Regions from separate parts of the Homo sapiens genome. Here region 2 is linked to region 1. Evidence: fine-mapped expression QTL. Tissue or cell type: whole blood. Region 1 holds a variant in brackets; the other region holds the start of a gene. All regions are shown on one strand. Distances are from middle to middle.

Evidence for each region. PIP is the estimated chance that this variant, and not a neighbour inherited with it, causes the effect. A credible set is the group of variants that fine-mapping cannot tell apart.
Region 2: ZNF331 starts here. The variant in region 1 is the best candidate, but not a certain one, in a credible set for the expression of ZNF331 in whole blood (INTERVAL, PIP 0.66).

What each region holds. Positions count from the first base shown.
Region 1 is chr19:53,575,468-53,586,375 of GRCh38, reverse strand. It overlaps ZNF331 (zinc finger protein 331), which reads right to left. Exons shown (of 6, transcript NM_001079906.2): 6 at 6,107-9,679. The coding sequence ends at 8,424. Among named protein-coding and RNA genes, the nearest start is that of ZNF331, 43 kb to the right of the region's middle. RefSeq lists an enhancer at 8,321-9,520. The variant G/T (reference allele first, on the strand shown) is at 5,123.
Region 2 is chr19:53,534,174-53,543,069 of GRCh38, reverse strand. It overlaps ZNF331 (zinc finger protein 331), which reads right to left and starts at 4,925. Exons shown (of 6, transcript NM_001079906.2): 1 at 4,774-4,925; 2 at 3,788-3,854. RefSeq lists enhancers at 4,846-4,895, 4,681-5,197.

The DNA of each region.
Region 1 (10,908 bases):
GGACACCCCATACATTTGTCCAAAGAGCCTGTGAAATGTGCGCAGAGTTATTCTGTTGATCTTGCTGCGTGCATGGGTTCAGATGGGGCTTGTTTTGGTGATGAGTTTCACTCAGCCACAGGTGCCTAAAAGAGATCAGAACCTTCCCAATTGCTCCTCGGCTTCTATAACTTTGTGTAATTACTGCCTCTCCAGACAATGATGTCTGCTCTGTAGCAAATAATTTCTCATAAATTCTTTATTTCTTATTTTACACATAATAATTACATGTGTTTATGGGATATGGAGTGATAATTTGATTTCTGTACACAATGTGTAATGATCAAATCAGGGTAATTAGCATATCCATCACCTCAAACATTTATTATTTGTATTGTGAACATTCAAAACCCTTCTAGCTTGTATTTATTTATTTATTTTTTATTTTTTTTGAGATGGAGTCTCACTCTATCACCCAGGCTGGAGTGCACTGGCGTGATCTCGGCTCACTGCAAGCTCTGCCTCCTGGGTTCACACCATTCTCCTGTCTCAGCCTCCCGAGTAGCTGGGACTACAGGTGCCCGCCACCATGCCCACCTAATTTTTTTTTTTTTTTGTATTTTTAGTAGAGACGGGGTTTCAGTGTCAGCCAGGATGGTCTCGATCTCCTGACCTCATGATCCCCCTGCCTCAGCCTCCCAAAATGCTGGGATTACAGGCGTGAGCCACCGCGCCCGGCCTATTTATTTATTTTAGAGACAGGGTCTCACTCTGTTGCCCAGGCTGGAGTGCAGTGGCGCAATTACAGCTCACTGCAGCCTCGACCTCCTGGGCTCATGGGCTCAGGTGATCCTCCCGCCTCAGCCTCCTGAGTAGCTGGGACTACAGGTGGGTGCCACCACATCTGGCTATTTTTGTATTTTGTTTTTTAGATATTATACATATAATATTTATGTAATTTTTTTAAGTAAAAAAATTTTTTTTGGAGACAGAAAGTCACTCTGTTGCACAGGCTGGACTGTAGTGGCACAATCTCGGCTCATTGCAACCTTCACCTCCTGGGTTCAAGCGATTCTCCTGCCTCAGCCTCCTGAGTAGCTGGAATTACAGGTGCACAACACCACGCCAGCCATGTATGTATATCCTTTTGCCATTATCGTATACCACACTGTTTTAATTACTATTGCTTTTTAAAATTTTTTTGAAATCCAGGCCGGGTGCAGTGGCTCCATCTGTAATCCCAGCACTTTGGGAGGCCGAGGCAGGTAGATCATCCGAGGTCAGGAGTTTGAGACCAGCCTGGCCAACATAGCAAAACCCCATCTCTACTAAAAATACAAAAATTAGCCAGGCATGGTGGTGGGCACCTGTAATCCCAGCTACTCGGGAGGCTGAGCAGGAGAATTGCTTGAACCTGGGAAGTGGAGGTTGTGGTGAGCCGAGATCATGCCACTGCACTCCAACCTGGGTGACAGAGTGAGACTCCGTCTCAAAAAAAAAAAAAAATTGAAATCCAGAAGTGTGAGTCCTCCACTGTTCTTTATTTTGGCTATTTGGGGTGTCTTGAAATTCCATACAACTCTAAGAGTTGGTTTCTCCATTTCTGCAAAAAATTGTCATTGAGTATTTTATTGATATTGCATTGAATATGTATATATTGCTTTGGGTAATATTGTTATCTTTGAAATTTTATTTAAAAAAATAATACAGAGATGGGATCTTGCCATGTTGCCAAGGCTGGTCTGGAACTCCTGGGCTCAAGCAAACCTCCTCCCTCAGCCTCCCCAAGTGCTAGGATTACAAGCATGAGCCACCGTGCCCAGCCATCATCTTAACAATATTAAATCTTCCAATTCAGGACCATGAAATATCCTTTCATTCCCAGCACTTTGGGAGGCCAAGGCGGGTGAATCACCTGAGGTCAGGAGTTCAAGACCAGCCTGGTCAACATGGCGAAACCCTGGCTCTACTAAAAATACAAAAATTAGCTGGGCATGGTGGCAGGTGCCTGTAGTCCCAGCTACTCAGGAGGCTAAGGCAGGAGTCTCTTGAACCGGGGAGGTGGAGGTTGCGGTGAACTGAGAGTGCACCACTGCACTCCAGCCTGGGCGACAGAGTGAGACTCCGTCTCAAAAACAAAAAAAAACCCTTCCATTTATTTAGGTTTTTTAAAAAAATTATTCTACAACTTCAACTGTTTTGTAGCTTTTGCGTACAACTCATGTACCTCCTTTTTTTTTTTTTTTTTTGAGACAGAGTTTCACTCTTGTTGTCCAGGCTGGAGTGCAATGGGGCGTATTCTCGGTTCACTGCAACCTCCGCCTCCCGGATTCAAGCAATTCTCCTGCCTCAGCCTCCCAAGTAGCTGGGATTACAGGCATCTGCCACCACACCCAGCTAATTTTGTATTTTTAATAGAGATGAGGTTTCCCCATGTTGGCCTGGTTGGTCTTGAACTCCAGACTTCAGGTGATCTGCCTGCCTCAGCCCCGCAAAGTGCTGGGATTACAGGCGTAAGCCACCAAGCCCGGCTCAATAATGACTTACTTTAGTAAAGCTCTTTGACTTCATGGTTACCCTTTACCCCATGGCTTTTACTGCTCTTTGTAGTTTTTTTTTTTTTTTTTTTTGAGAGAGTCTCACTCTGTCGCCCGGGCTGGAGTGAAGTGGTACACCCTCGGCTCACAGCAACCTCCGCCTCCTGAGTTCAAGCGATTCTCCTGCCTTAGCCTCTTGAGTAGCTGGGATCACAGGCATGCGCCACCTTGCCCGGCTAATTTTTGTATTTTTAGTAGAGACGGGGTTTCACCATGTTGGTCAGGCTGGTCTCAAACTCCTGACCTGAGGTGATCCGTCCACCTCAGCCTCCCCAAGTGCTAGGATTACAGGTGTGAGCCACTGTACCCGCCCTGTTTTTTTTTTGTTGTTGTTGTTACTGCTCTTTGTAGGGTTTTTGTTTGTTTTGTTTGTTTTTTTGTCATTATCCAGGCTGGAATCCAGTGATGCAATCATCACTCACTGTAGCCTCCACCTCCTGGGCTCAAGCAATCCTCCTGCCTCAGCCTCTTGAGTAGTTGGGACTACAAGTGAGCACCACCACACCTGGCTAATATTTTTATTTTTTGTAGAGACAGAATCCCACTATGTTGCCCAAGCTAGGGTAAACTTTATTATTATTATTATTTTTTTTTTTTTATGAGACGGAGTCTTGCTCTGCCGGCTAGGCTGGAGTGCAGTGGAGCGATATTGGCTCACTGCAACCTCTGCCTCCTGGGTTCCAGCGATTCTCCTGTCTCAGCCTCCTGAGTAGCTGAGATTACAGGCATGCGCTATCACACCTGGCTAATTTTTGTATTTTTAGTGGAGACGGAGTTTCACCATGTTGGCCATGCTGGTCTTGAACTCCTGACCTCAGGTGATCTGCCCACCTCGGCTTCCTAAAGTACTAGGAGTATAGGCATGAACCACTGTACCGTCTCCACTAAAAATACAAAAATTAGCCACTCTGTAGCTCAGGTTGGAGTGCAGCGAGGCGATCTCAGCTCACCGTAGCCTCCTGGGTTCAAGCCATTCTCCTGCCTCAGCCTCCTGAGTAGCTGGGATTACAGGCGTGGGTCACCACGCCTGGCTAATTTTTGTATTTTTAGTAGAGACAGGGTTTCACTAAGTTGGCCATGCTGGTTTTTAACTGCTGACCTCAGTTGATCTGCCTGCCTAGGCCTCCCAAAGTGCTGGGATTACAGGCATGGGCCACTGCGCCTGGCCACCTCCGGGATTTTTTTTTTTTTTTTTTTTTGAGATGGAGTCTTGCTCTGTCTCAAAAAAGTGCACTGGCTGGATCTCAGCTCACCGCAACCTCCGCCTGCCCGGTTCAAGTGATTCTCCTGCCTCAGCCTCCCGAGTAGCTGAGATTGCAGGTGTGCACCATTGTGCCGGGCTAATTTTTGCATTTTTAGTAGAGACAGGTTTTCACTGTGTTGGCCAGGCTGGTCTCAAACTCCCGACCTCAAGTGATCCACTCGCCTCAGCCTCCCGAAGTGCTGAGATTACAGGCGTGAGCCACCGCGTTGGCCCACCTCTGGGCTTTTTATATAAACTTTGGATTTTGCTCCTTGAGCCAAGAGTCCTGCCTGACACACATTCTTCCCATATTTCCTTCTGGGAACTAACCCTGTCCACCCAGGCTGTCTTCCTGTGCCTTGGCTGTGTCCTGTAAGGCCAGGCCAGTGCTGCCTTTCTGCACAGCCTCCTCGTTTCTCAGTATTCTCCCTACCCCTACTCCCACATTCCTCCAGCCTCCTCTCACTGTCTTCCACCTGCTTCTCCTCTTCACACTCCTTCCCCTGCCCTTCTCCTTACCCCACCCAGCTCCTCCTCTGTTTATGCGGGAATGCTGGGAAGAGCAGTGGCCCCACCATGCGTGTTGCTCTTGGTGGCAAGGAAGGGACCCTGGGCCCCTTCTGCTGAGGCTGGCGTAGGGTCCACAGGGGAAAGGGGCACTAAGCAGGACGGTGCCGCCTATGAGGTTGATTCCTAAGGGTACTGAAGCCTAGACCAGAAAGATACCCAGCTCTGAAACCTGGGTCTGGAACCCCTTCCCCAAACATGCTCCCTCACTTCCCCACCACCCCTGGAGAATCTGAATCCTTAACCTAATGCTGAGGTATTTGTAATCCGAGAACTAAGCAGCTTTGATTGAAACGTAACCCTACCCTTGAGGTAAATCAAACAAGCAGGACTTCAACCCTATATTCTGGATCCTTTGCCAACCTTTATAGGACACCCCTGAGCTCTAACCACACCACCATCCCCCGTGCCTAAGGCTCTCCTGCAGGATGTAGCGTCCGCCCTCCATCTCCGCAGCTGCTCTCAGGAGCACTCCAGTCCTCTCCCAGCCCCAAGGCCTCTCTCCAGGCCTCTATCCCTTCTCTCCCAGAATTCATCCCTGAGCTCTAGCCAGGCCCTCCCATGCCCATTAGCCACTCCTCTGCCCCGTCAAACTCACTCCCATGGGGTCTAGAGTCCTCCCCAATCCATATTCTCCGATTCCTACTATGGGCTCTGGTCCTTTCCCTAAGGTAATCCTACCCTCAGCCTAGGACCATCTTAAGATAGTTCAGGTCTCTCCCCTGAGTCTGTGTCC[G/T]CACCTCCCCCAGGACTCTGTCAGAGGTGTTTGAACCAGAGCGACTCCATTTTGAGTGCGGGCTAGGAAAATGAGGCTGAGACTTGCTGGGCTGCATTCTGAGAAATGTAGGCAATTCCGAGCCTCCAGATGTTTACGGTTAAGGGAACAAATTATTAACAGTTACTAAACAGACCCACACTTGGGAGTGTCCAGATATCCTGATATCTGGAGAACAAAGGCATTCCTAGTTTTGCTTTAAAGATAATATCAATTCTTGCAAAATAATGAAGAGAATGAATCCTTCATCACAAACCCTTGTAGCAGAGCACGTCTCCCCATATATGTGAGCATTGGACCTAGGGTGGATGCGTTCCTCCTAACGTCAGGAGCGTCCAACACTGTCTGTGGAGTAGCTGTCCTTTCGCCACTTTTTCTGTTTTTGAGATGGAGCCTCCCTCTGTCGCCCAGGCTGGAGTGCAGTGGTGTGATCTCAGCTCACTGCAACCTCTGCCTCCCGGGTTCAAGTGATTCTCCTGGCTCAGCCTCTCGAGTAGCTGGACTGCAGATGTGTGCCCACACACCTGGCTAATTTTGTATTTATAGTAGAGATGGGGTCTTGCCATGTTGGCCAGGCTGGTCTTGAACTCCCGACCTCAGGTGATCTACCCACCTCGGCCTCCCAAAGTGCTGGGATTACAGGCGTGAGCCACCGCACCTGGTCCCACCACTTTACTTTCTTAATAAAGTTGCTTTTGCTTTGCACTGAGGACTTGTCCTGAATTCTTTCTTGTGTGAGATCCAAGAACTCTCTCCTGGGGTCTGGATTGGCACCCCTTTCCTGTAACAACTCTACTCTGGGCCCTGACCCCGTCCCCAGGACCAGTCCGCTCACCTCCCTCCCGCGCTGTCCCTGCTGTGGGCACCGCTAGGGTTTAGCAGAGGTCCAGTCTGCTGGCGGGGTTCCTTCTTGAATAGGTCGTGTTTGAATATCCAACAAAGAGACCTGCTCATCTTTGATTTTATTAATATTTGATTGACAAATAATAATTGTATTATATTGATGGAGTACAATGTGATGTTCTGATACATGTATACAATGTGGAAGGATTAAATCAAGCTAATTAACATATCCATCACCTCGCTCCCTTATCCTCCTTCTTTGTGGTGAGACATCTGAAATCAGCCTTGTTATTGTGATTTAAATTTAATCATCCTGGTGACTGTCTAGAGTGACAGCACATTGTGGTTTTACTCTACAGTTCCTTGAGGAGCAATGACATTGAATACATTTTCACTTACTTATTGGCCATTTGGTGGTCTTCTGTTGAGACGTGCTGAAGTTTTCTCCCCTTTAAATTGATTTTTTTTTCAACTTGAGGGATTCTTTATATTTTCTATGAGAGTTCCTTTGTCAGGTGTACCTTAGAGCAAACATCTTCTTCCAGTCCTGTTTCTTGTCTTTTCCCTATCTTAACAGCATCATTTGATGAACAGAACTTTGTACTTTTGATGAAGTGTAACAACTTTTTATGTTTGCTGTGTTTTGTGTACTAAGAAATCATTGCGTAACCCACGGCTGTGCCAATAATCTCTTAATGTTTTCTTCTAGAAGACTCAATGGTCTTTTCCAGACTCATTGCACCCACAGGGAGTTTTCTTGTAAAAATTCACTAATGGCAACACAAATGGTAGTAATGATCATAAAAACAACAATAGTTATTATTTATTAAAATTACACAATATTCCAGTTACACTTTCAAAGACTTTACATGTACCAAACATTTAATTTCCATGATAGCAGTCTCAGGTAGATGTGATTATCCTTATGTACAAATAATGCACATAGTGTCTGTGTGCTGGACAACGCACAGGGGTAGTGAGCCTTTGGCCCAGTGTCTCACAGGGAGGAGGGCGGGGGATGGTGGGGACAACTGGTAGAGTGGGTGGCATGACCAAAGGCTTTCTCACGTGTTACATTAGCAGGGTTATTCCACAGATGCCACGGAGTAAAGACAGAATGGTACTGGTAGTCTTTATGTATTCATTAAACTAACCCACACAATAAAAACATCTACACCAAAAACAAGATCATTCAGAAAAAGTGATTTTTCCACTCTTCAAATTTGCCTCTAGAATGACTTCTGATATTCTGTAAGCAGAAGAGTGATCAGTGGGCTAGGTGCAGTGGCTCACGCCTGTAATCCTAGCACTTTGGGAGGGCAAGGTGGGTGGATCACCTGAGGTCAGGAGTTGAGACCAGCCTGGACAACATGGTGAAAACTGTCTCTACTAAAAATACAAAAATTAGCCAGGTGTGGTGGTGCATGTCTGTAATCCCAGCTACTGGGGAGGCTGAGGCAGGAGAATTGCTGGAACCTGGGAGGTGGAGGTTGCAGTGAGCCAAGACCGTGCCACTGCACTCCAGCCTGGGCAAGAGTGAGACTCTGTCTCAAAAAAACAAAAACAAAAACAAAAACAACAGTGATCAGTGAAGCCTTACGTTAAACTGTACCAGGAATTTTCCTCCTGTTGAGGAAGGAATGGATGTAGTCTAGAGGCCTTCCTATATTCTTTGTACAGCAGTCCCCTCTCACCTGAGGGGGGTACGTTTGAAGACCCGCAGTGGACACCTGAAACCACAGATAGTACGTTTTTTTCCTGTACATATATACGATACTATATACTACATTTTTTCCTGTACATACATATCTAAAGTTTAATTTATAAATTAGGCACAGTAAGAGATTACCAACAGTAACTAACAAAATAGAACAATTGTAACAATATATGTAATAAAATTATGTGAACGTATCTCTCTCCCAAAATATCTTATTGTCATGTAGATCTTAGCAACCTCAGTATATGATTTTTTTCTTTTCTTTTTTAAGTTGAGAACTTTCACCTTTTCATTTAAAAGGAAGCACTTTGTGGCTTCTCTTTGGCATATCCGAATCACCAGCATCACTACTCCTGCTCTCTGGGGCCACTGTTAAGCAAAGTGAGGACTGCTTGGGCACAGGCACTGTGATGCTGGGATAGTTGATCTGATCACCAAGACGGCTACTAAGTCACTAGCAGGGTGGGTGGCGTATACAGCGTGGATGTGCTGGACCAAGGGATGACTCACATCCCCGGCCGGCTGGAGCCGGACAGCGAGAGATTTCATCACGCTACTCAGAAGGGCACACCATTTGAGACTTAAAATTCTTTATTTCTGGAATTTTCCATTTAATATTTTTGAACTGCAGTTGACTGCAGGTAACAAACTGTGGAAAGCGAAACCATAGATACGAGCGGGCTACTGCGTTCAAAAGGCTCTTCAACTGTTGTGGATCCTCTGATGTTCTCGGAGATGGTTTAGGTGGTTACATGCCTTCCCGCACTCCTTACATTCGTAGGATTTCGCCCCACTGTGCGTTTTCTGATGTTGTGTAAGCTGATGGCCGTGACTAAAGCTCTTCCCACATTCTGTACACCCATAGGGTTTCACCCCGGTATGAATTCTCTCATGTTTCACGAGGCTCGATCCATAAATGAAAGCCTTCCCACACTCCTTACATTTATACGGGGTTTCGCCTGTGTGGATTCTCTCGTGCTGAGTGAGGTGATAGCCACAATTGAAGGCCTTCCCACATTCTGTGCACTTGTACGGCTTCTCGCCCGTATGTATCCTCTCGTGCTTAACGAGGCTCGAACCCCAGCGAAAGGCCTTCCCACACTCCTTACATTCGTGAGGCTTCTCACCGGTGTGGATCTTCTGATGCTGAGTAAGGTAATTGACTCGAGTAAAGGCCTTCCCACATTCTTGACATTCATAGGGTTTCTCACCTGTGTGAATTCTTTTATGCTGAATGAGGCTTGAACCACAAATAAAAGCCTTCCCACAGTCTTTACACTCGTAAGGCTTCTCCCCACTATGAATTCTCTTGTGCTGAATAAGTTTATACACACGGCTAAAGGTCTTCCCACAGTCTTTGCATTCGTAGTCTTTCTCCCCAGTGTGGAATCTCTGGTGCTGAGTGAGCTCATCACCACGCCGAAAGGCCTTTCCACAGTCTTTACATTCATAGGGTTTTTCACCAGTATGAATCCTCTTATGAATAACGAGGCTTGAGCCCCATCGAAAAGCCTTCCCACAGTCTTTACATTCGTAGGGCTTCTCCCCAGTATGAATTTTTTGATGTTGAGTAAGCTGATTGCCCCAACGGAAGGCCTTCTTACATTCTTTACATTCATAAGGTTTCTCACCAGTATGGATTTTCTGATGTTGACTAAGTTGATAGCCACGACTAAAGGCCTTCCCACAGTCCTTACATTCAAAGGAATTCTCCTTATGATGTCTCTGATGTGTTCTAGGAGGGGTGCCTTCTCTAGTAGCAGGTCTTTTGACATAATTGATGATCATCTGATTGACATACCTCCCTCTGGAGCGCTGTGGTCTTTCAAGCGTACCTTCACATATCCAGTTACGGCCAAGGGATTTACTTCTTCTATCTGAATTCCTTTTGGAAGCCCTTATTTCATGAATGTTTTTTTCTGTAGGTAAACTCTTATTTTCATATGCTGACTCCAAATCTGGGAAAAAAGAACATATTTTCTTTCCTTTAGAGGGACACAAGTACAAACGAACCTAACCACAAACCAAAAACTCGTCTAATAGAAATAAAAATTATCCAGTAGAATAAATGTGAATCACCCAGGGCTCTTGTTAAAATGTAGATTCTACTTCTGGTACAATACTAACTGAGAATTCATTGGAGACATCTATTTTAAAGTCAGACATGAAAAAGGTCCCGACAATTAGTCCTATTATTTCCTATTTTGAAGATGAAAACAAGTATTTGTAGATGATGTGATGATATACTTGGAAAACCAAATATAGAAGTACTGTAACAAAACAATATGCAGTTGGATGGCTGTGTGTAAAGCATTCTGAAACTGATACACGTATATGTCAGTAGTATTATTAAAAGTAACTGGTAAAGGGCCGGGAGTGGTGGCTCATCACGCCTGTAATCCCAGCACTTTGGGAGGCCAAGGCAGGCAGATCACCTGAGGTCGGGAGTCCGAGACCAGCTTGACCAACATGGAGAAACCTTGTCTCTACTAAAAATACAAAATTAGCCGGACATGGTGGCGCATGACTGTAATCCCAGCTACTCGGGAGGCTGAGGCAGGGAAATTGCTTGAACCTGGGAAGCAGAGGTTGCAGTGAGCCGAGATCATGCCATTGCACTGTAGCCTGGGCAACAAGCATGAAACTCTGTCTCAAAACAAAAACAAAAAAACAGACTGGGCACGGTGGCTCACGCTTGTAATCCCAGCACTTTGGGAGGCCGAGGTGGGCAGATCATGAAGTCAGGAGTTCGAGACCAGCCTGGCCAACACGGTGAAATCCTGTCTCTACTAAAAATACAAACATTAGCTGGGCATGGTGGTGGGTGCCTGTAATCCCAGCTACTCCGGAGGCTGAGGCAGGAGAATCGCTTGAACCCGGGAGGCAGAAGTTGCGGTGAGCCGAGATTGTGCCACTGCACTCCAGCCTGGGTGACAGAGCTAGACTCCATATCAAAAAAACAAAAAACAAAAAACAAAAACAAACAAACCCTGTCTGTACTAAAAACGCAAAAATTAGCCAGGCATGGTGGTGTGAGCCTATAATCCCAGCTACTTGGGAGGCTGAGGCAGGAGAATCGCTTGAACCCGGGAGGTGGAGGTTGCAGTGAGCCGACTGAATAAGACTCCGTCTCAAAAAAAAAAAAAAAAAAAAAAGCAACTGGGTAAAAGAATACAACATTCAAAAG
Region 2 (8,896 bases), 42 kb after region 1:
TCGGAGGCTGAGGCAGGTGGATCACCTGAGGTCGGGAGTTCAAGACCAGCCTGACCAACATGGAAAAACCCTGTCTCTACTAAAAATACAAAATTAGCTGGGCGTGGTGGCACTTGCCTGTAATCTCAGCTACTTAAGAGGCTGAAGCAGGAGAATCGCTTGAACCCGGGAGGCAGAGGTTGCGGTGAGCCGCGATTGCGCCATTGCACTCCAGCCTAGGCAACCAGAGCGAAACTCTGTCTCAAGAAAAACAAAAGTGCCTTCCTTGAACCCGCTGTCTGCGTAATCAATATTAACCAAAAATAACATTCAGAGTCTGATGTTAAGAATGAAATTCATTTTGTTTAACAAAATGAATACATTAGCAAAAGAGATTCTAAGAAATATAACGAGGAAATGTTCCCTTTCCATCAGCAACTAGGGGGACAGAGACATTGTTCTGCATAAGAAAATCTAATTTAATGACTCTAATCTGAGAAGATGCCAAGTTGAGAACATTAGCAAGAGGCTGAATTTTGTGTTCCACGGGATAAGGGAGATACATATGAGATACTGTCATCTAATTCTTTTTCTATCTTGGAAATGTTACTTATACAGCCCATATTTGTTACTTGTACAAATAATCTTGCTAATGTCACATGGAAAGTCCGTATCTGCAAGGCACCCAGTGATTAGTGTTCATGGGTGATTATTGTGATGTCCTGGGAAAGGAACATTAACATTCTATAATCTAATTCTAAAAGGCTGTCTTTCTTGAAAATTTGTTACCATAGGTTAGATTCAGATGATGGATTTCTAATCCTACAAGGTAGAAATATGTGAGATATTTCAAAACAAGGCAAAGATCACTGGCATAGCCCTTCCCCTCCCAACACACACACAGGTGTAATGCGACTCATGGCTGGGTTGGATTCCTTTTATAAATTAAGATTTGGAGTCTCTGACTCATTTATGATGAATTAGCAAGATTCAATACTCCAAAAACAAAACACACACATGCTTAGAGGCAAAGAAGAGGCCTAGAAACATAAATACCATTTCAGATGTTTTTTTCTTGTTTTTTTTTTTGAGACACTGTCTCCCTTTGTTGCCCAGGCTAGAGTGCAATGGCTCACTGCAGCCTGGAACCCCTAAGCCCAAGTGATCCTCCCACAGCAGCCTTCTGAGTAGCTGAAACTATAGGTATGCATCACCATGCCTGGCTAATCTTTTTCAATTTTTTATTTTAGTAGAGATGGAGTCTCACTGTTGCCCAGGCTGGTCTCAGACTCCTGGCCTCAAGTGATCATCCCGCTTTGGCCTCCCAAAGTGCTGGCCATTTAAAATGTTCATCAGTGATTATCTCTGGATGGTACAATTATGGGTAATTTGGAGATTCTTCTTTAAGGGCTCCTTAGGGACTGTTTCTTTCTTTGCCCCCAGCAGGCCTGCATTAATCCTATTATAAGAAATATAACAAGATAGGAGCAGGGTACAGTGGCTGGTGCCTGTAATCCCAGGTACTTGAGAGGCCGAGGTGGGAAGACCACTTTAGCCCAGGAGATTGAGGCTGCTGTGAACTATTATCAACCCACTGCACTCCAGCATGGGCAACAGAACACAACCTTGTCTATAAGGAAAAAACAAAACAAAACAAAACAAAAACACATAAAAGAAGAAATATAGGCCGGGCACGGTGGCTCACGCCTGTAATCCCAGCACTTTGGGAGGCCGAGGCAGGCAGAGCACCTGAGGTCGGGAGCTCGAGACCAGCCTGACCAACAAAAGAGAAACCCCGTCTCTACTAAAAATACAAAATTAGCTGGGTGTGGTGGCGCATGCCTGTAATCCAAGCTACTCAGGAGACTGAGGCAGGAATTGCTTGAACCCAGGAGGCAGAGGTTACGGCGAGCTGAGATCACGCCATTGCACTCCAGCCTGGGCAACAAGAGCGAAACTCTGTCTCAAAAAAAAAAAAAAGAAAAGAAATATGATTATTGTTCTCTCGTTGCCTCTCTCAAACATGTCAATATGGTAATGCTGGCACCTATGATGATATTACCTTACATGGCAAAGGGGAATTAAGGTTGCAGGCGGACTAAAATTGCTAATGGGCTGACACTAAAATAGGGAAGATTATCCTGAGTTACCTCAGCGGGCCTAATGTAATCACCAGGGTCCTCAAAATGAGAAGAGGGTGAGATGAACAGAAAGAAGTAGGGTCAGAGTGACGTGATGGAAAAGGGACTTGGCCTGTCTTTGCAGCTTTGATGATGGAAGAAGGGGTCACAAACCAAGGCATGTGGGGCAGTGTCTAGAAGCCAGCAAAAGCAAGGACATAAAATACCTCCCACAGGGCAGGCTCGGTGGCTCACACCTGTAATCCCGCACTTTGGGAGGCTGAGGCCGGCTAATTAATCACCTGAGGTCAGGAGTTCGAGACCAGCCTGATCAACAAGGAGAAACCCTGTTTCCACTAAAAATACAAAAATTAGCTGCGGATGGTGACATGTGCCTGTAATCCCAGCTACTCGGGAGGCTGAGGCGGGAGAATCACTTGAATCTGGGAGGTGGAGGTTGCAGTGAGCCAAGATTGTGCCACTGCGCTCCAGCATGGGCAACAGAGCAAGCCTCCATCTCAATTACAGAAAAAAAAAGACTATCTCCTAGAGCCTCCAAGCACACACACCTCCTAGAGCTCTGCCAAAGAGCCTCCAAGCACACACATGTCCTCCGTGAGAGGACACAGCAAGATGGTGACAGTCTCCAACCTGGAAAAGGGCCCTCATCAGAACCTGACCATGCTGGTACCCTCTTCTCAGACTTCCAGCCTCCAGAACTGTGAGCAATAAATGTTTGTGGTTTCAGCCACCGGTCTATGGTACTTTGTTACAGACTAAGGTAAGAATAAATTAAGGAGTGTGTGCAAAACACAATAGAGTATGGTACAAAAATGCGCTCAATAAATGTGGCCAGGCTCCTCTCTTTTGAAGGATTCATGAATAATCCTAAATAATATACTAAAATGTCATGTTGGATAAGGTATTTACAAAAATCTTATTCAATGGAATTTGTAGGCAACTGAAGCATTTCCTTCATTTACTATTGTTAATAACTATTAGTAGTGTTTAATATTATGTCAGGTGCATTTTTCTTTCTTACGGTTATAACTAAACTTACTTCTTTGTAGCTGCAGAGTATTCCATGAAATGAACGTGGTATAATTACTTAACCATTTCCACCATCCTGAACAATAATTGTGGTCAAGGTACACAGCCTTCGATTGTAGACCAATGGGTCTAAATGTCTTTGGGGCATGTCCATCCTTCTTAATGCCATGAAATTACAGAGTATCTCCTTAGGGTGGTGGTGGTGGGGGACAGATACACTAACACTGATAATCACATACAGTAAATATACACAGAATGTCCCTTGGAAAGTTGTAAGTGGAGTTAAAGGCAGGCCCTCAGGTTAAGGATAACAGTTCTAGGCCATTTGAGGCTGTGGTTCATTTTGTGAACCTGCAAACACCCATCCCAGTTACCTTCATATGTACGTTGCTCCTGATGTACAGACATCCAGACTTAGCACAAAACAGCAGCACTCACTGTGCACTCCCACTCAGGGGTGCGCGTCTATGGGTTTTATGCGTGTTAATGCATTTCACCCTCCTCACAAGCCTATCTTCAGAAGGCTCAAAAAGCTAAGAGGCAGAAACAGGACTCAAATCTTGGTCATCTACCTTTAATGTTTGGTCTTAAGTCTTATAAACACATATCATTTAATATAAAAAAAAAAGGATACTCACCTGACCCTTTCAGATGTTTAACGATTCGTCTTCCTCCTCGGGGATGCTTTTTCTGAAGGATGCTGGCCTGGGGAAAACAGAACCGGAAGGGTAACACCTGCCATACCTAATAAAACCAATGAGAAATACGAGGCCCCGAGATGGAGTTTCTGGGAGATTCCTGAAGAGCACGCTGTGGCGATTGAGATGATGACGCGTGGAGCTGCCCCCCTCCCTGTCTCCCACATCAGGGACCTGTCCCTCTACAGGAGGAATTCTACTCCTGAGGCCACCGTCCCCTGTCACTCAGGTGGCCTGCATGCACAGCACTTCTGGCTCTGAAAGCGTCACCTCATGGCTGTTTCTGCCTTCTTGCTGGTGAATTTCCAGGCGAGGCTCAGGCGCTCACGTCCCTCCGCGGCCCTTGTTCTCAGGCAGGTACCGCTTGGTTAGGAGGTGAAGGCAGGGGAAGCAGCAGAGACGCTGGAGCTACAAGTTGCACTGTCACACACACCTGCATCACTCAGAAGGCCCGATCATCCATCCCAGCACAGAGACGCTGAAGCTACAGGTTGTGTTGTCACACACACCTGCGTCACCCAGAAGGCCCGATCACCCATCCCAGCACAAGTCTGCACAGCTCAGCCTCACCACAGCTCACTCTGTCCTGAGACACATCTGCGCCCCTCATACCCACTAACGCCCAGCACGGCCATGCTACGGGCCCCACCACCCCACACGGTGCAGAGGTGCATCCGTGGGCCACGGAGACCCGTCCCGACCGCTGCCCCCGCACAACCCCCAGAGCGCACCTCACGGAGCAGAGTCCCAGGGACGCACCGCCGAGGTTCACAGGCACGGGCTGCGTTGACCCAAAGCCTCTGGAGCACCCCCGGTCACCAGTTATGGGGAGAGCCCGGCTGTGTCACCCCACACTCTCCAGCAAGTGCGTCACCGTCAGAAGCCCCGTGCCCGTCTCCCCTCGGAGCCACGCGCACCAATCTCACCTGCGCGGACTGGCGGAGATGCAGCGGCTGCGTCACTGGTGCAAACGCGCACCCAGCACGGCCCCCATCGCCCCCAATGACGCTCGCGTGCACCCGTGTCACAGTTACGGGGACAGGGCCGCCGCGTCAGCCTCGTACTCCCACGCAAGTGCGTCACACACTCGGTCCCGCCACCCCCTGGAGGCCAGCGCGCATGCGCACGCGCACCCAGCGGCCGCAGCGCGCAGACAGCAGCAGAGCCCGACACGCATGTGCACACAGACCCCTACACGTATGTGCACGTACCCAGACCCCGACACGTATGTGAGCGTACACAGACCCCCGATACATAGCGTGCTCAGCTGTTGACGTGCCTGTGCGGGCACACAGACCCTGACGGGCGTGTGCGCACGCACAGATGCCGACACGCATGTGCAGACACAACAGAGCCCGACACACACGTGCGCCTGCACAGATGCTGACACGCGGACACACTGACACGTGTGCGTGCACCCCTCCCATCCCTTTCCCTCCTCCCACTCTCCCAAAGCCGCAGACGCACCCGGTAGTCCCCCAACGCTGGGGCCTCGGGAGAGGGTGAGGCTAGAAGAGGACGCGGGGCCGTCGGGGGAAACCAGAGCCCCAAGCCCCGTGTTCCAGCATGCAGCACGGCGTACTCCTGGATGGTCTCTGGGAAATGTAGTCCGGGACGGTCCCAGGCAGGGGCCTCAGGGCGCGTCCCAGGTCGGTGCCGGAGCGGGCAGCCCCAAGCTAAGCCCTTCCTGGTCCCTGCAGACGCCCCTTCCCGACTGGGAAAGGAGCTGTGTCACCCCAGCTGGGACCCCGTCTGGCCTCTTGAGTGGGGTGATGCCGGGCGAGCCATGGCTGTCCTCAGAAGGGTATCCTCTCCTAGCCCCTCTGGAGCGTCACCTGGAATTCTCTGCAGGCCGCTAGCACAGGCTGCCGGAGCTGCTATTCGGTGTCCCTTGCTTGCTGCATTGTAAACAATGTACAGGTAGCAGTTATGCCCCGTGAGTCCCGCTCTCATTCCAAGTACTAACGTCACAGGGTCTACAGGATGTTGCAGGTACTTAACCACAGTCTCATTTTGACTCAAAATCCCACTTTTTGGTATTTATGCCAAGGAAGTAGCTATAGTTGTACACAATGTTGAAGTATGTTCACAAAATGCTTTTTTTCTGAAAATCTTTTTCTCTTTTAATTAGATAGACTTTAGATTCATATGTAGTTACAAGAAATAAAATTGAGAGATCTTGTGTACCTTTCACCTGGTTACCTCAGCTGGTGATTGTAGTATATAATACCACAACCAGAAGATTAACATTGATGTAATCCACTGACGTTACCCAGAATTTCCAGAGAATAATTTTTTGTTTGTTTGTTTGTTTGTTTTGAGACGGAGTTTCGCTCTTGTTGCCCAGGCTCAAGTGCAATGGTGCGATCTCGGCTCACTGCAACCTCCGCCTCCTGGGTTCAAGGGGTTCTCCTGCGTCAGCCTCCCCAGTAGCTGGGATGACAGGCATGCGCTACCACGCCCGGCTAATTTTTTTTGTATTTTTAGAAGAGACGGGGTTTCTCTATGTTGGTCAGGCTGGACTCGAACTCCCGACCTCAGGTGATCCGCCTGCCTCGGCCTCACAAAGTGCAGGAATTACAGGCGTGAGCCACCACACCCAGTCGAGAATAATTTTTAAAAATGAAAATCTTGCAGTGGAGGATAAAGGAAAATCAGATTAAACCATGGTCTGTTATACAATGACATAGAGTACATTTCCTAATAATACTGACTCATTAATTAAGAAAACTTCTGAAGAATCAACAAGGGAAAAGGGTAGGTTAAAATGGTACATATAATTTGAGCAGACATGTTTTGGTGAAATTAACACAGGCTCTGTGGTCTGATTTGAGGGTGTTAATCTGAGCTCTGATAGTTATTAACTTCACAGTGTGGTAAAGTTTCCTCACTGGTAAAACCACAAGAAAGATAGTACAATGTATGACTGTTTGAACAGGATCATCCACATGAAACACACAGTCATATATAACAATTAAGATAAGGTAGCTGTTATTACTAAAAAATCAGTAACATATCTCAATCCATTTTCATAAAAGTAACAAGTCTGCTATTTCCTTTTAACTAGGGAGACAGAGACATGATAGTTCCTTAAAAAATCTAGTTTAAAGATTCTTATCAGCTAGGTGCAGTGGCTCACACCTGTAATCCCAGCACTTTGGGAAGCCAAGGTGAGCGGATCACTTGAGGTCAGAAGTTCAAGACCAACCTGGGCAACATGGTGAAACCCTGTCTCTACTGAAAATACAAAAATTAGCCGGGCATGGTGGTGAGATTGTAATCTCAGTTTCTCAGGAGGCTGAGTCAGGAGATTCGCTTGAACCTGGGAGGCAGAGGTTGTAGTGAGCCAAGATTGCGCCACTGCACTCCAGCCTGGGTGACAGAGTAAGACTTCATCTCAAAAAAGAAAAAAAAAAAAAAAGTGAACATTTTAAACTAGTGCTATCTCATTCTATTTCATATACCTTTGAAATGTTACAGTCAATATTCGTTACTTGCACATATAACCTTGGGAATATTTCCAAAGTCCATATTTGTAAGGTATCCAGTGACTATTTTCATATTCATCAATGATTAATTTTTCAAAGCAAGGAAACATGACTGGTATCTCTCTTCTCTCCACATGCACACAGACATAATGTGACCCGTGGTTGGGCTGGATTTCTTTTACAAACTATGATTTGGAGAGTTTTTGCCTCATTTACATGATTAATAGGATTCAATGTTCCAGAAACAAAACACACACATGCTTAGAGGTGGAGGGGAAGACAGTAAACATACATACTAAGTGTTAACAGTAATTATCTTTAGATGGTATAAATATGGGTAATTACGGCCGGACAGTGGCTTACACCTGTAACCCCAGCACTTTGAGAGGCCAAGGCAGGTGGATCACTGGAGGCCAGGAGTTCGAGACCAGCCTTGGCCAACATGGCGAAACCCCATCTCTACTAAAAATACAAAAATTAGCTGAATGTGTGGCAGACACCTGTAATCCCAGCTACTCAGGAGGCTGAGGCAGATCTCTTGAACCCGGGAGGCAGAGGTTGCAGTGAGCCGAGCTTGTACCATTGCACTCCAGCCTGGGCAACAAAAGCAAGACTCTGTCTTAATAAATAAATAGATAAATAAATAAATAAGGGTAATTTTTAGTTTCCTCTTTGTGTGCTTCTTAGGGGAATAATTTTTTTTTTTTTTTTTTTTTGGTTACAGGCTTTCATTAATCCCATTATAAAGTATATAATTATAGGGAGCCCCAAATTTAAAAAAAGATTAGTAAGGAAAACAGACCATTGTTATAGGGGAGTGGGTACATTCTAGCTATTCAGGAAAGTTTGATGGACAGGCCTGTTACTGGCAGAATATATCCACATCCTACATCTGGAACCTGGGAATATGTTATGTTACAAGGCAAGATAAAGAAGGTTGCAGATGGACTTAAATTGCTAACCAGCCACCCTTCAGATACGGAGATTACCCTGAATTATCTAGGTGGGCCTGGTGCAATTACAAAGTTCCTTAAAAGTAGGTGAGGGAGTTCTGAAGAAGAGAAACATGTGATGACAGAAACAGGTGGGGAATGAGGTGATACAAGAAGAACTTGACTTGTCTTTTCTGGGTTTAAAGGTGTAGGATAGGGCTGGACGCAGTGGCTCACACCTGTAATCCCAGCATTTGGGAGGCCGAGGTGGGCGGATCACTTGAGGTCAAGAGTTCGAGACCAGCCTGGCCAACTGGTGAAACCCCATCTACTAAAAAAATACAAAAATTAGCCGAGTGTGGTGGTGCATGCCTGTAATCCCAGCTACTCAGGATGCTGAGGCAGAAGAATCGCTTGAATCTGGGAGGTGGAGTTTGCAGTGAGCTGAGATGGTGCCACTGCACTCCAGCCCAGGCAACAGAGTGAGACTCTGTATCAAAAAAAAAAAGTAGGATGGGGTCATGAGCTAATCTGGGCAGCCTCTAGAAGCTGGGAAAGGCCATGAAAGAGAATGCCTCCTAGAGCCTCCAAAAAGCAACACAGTCTTCAACATGTTGGTTTTAGCCCAG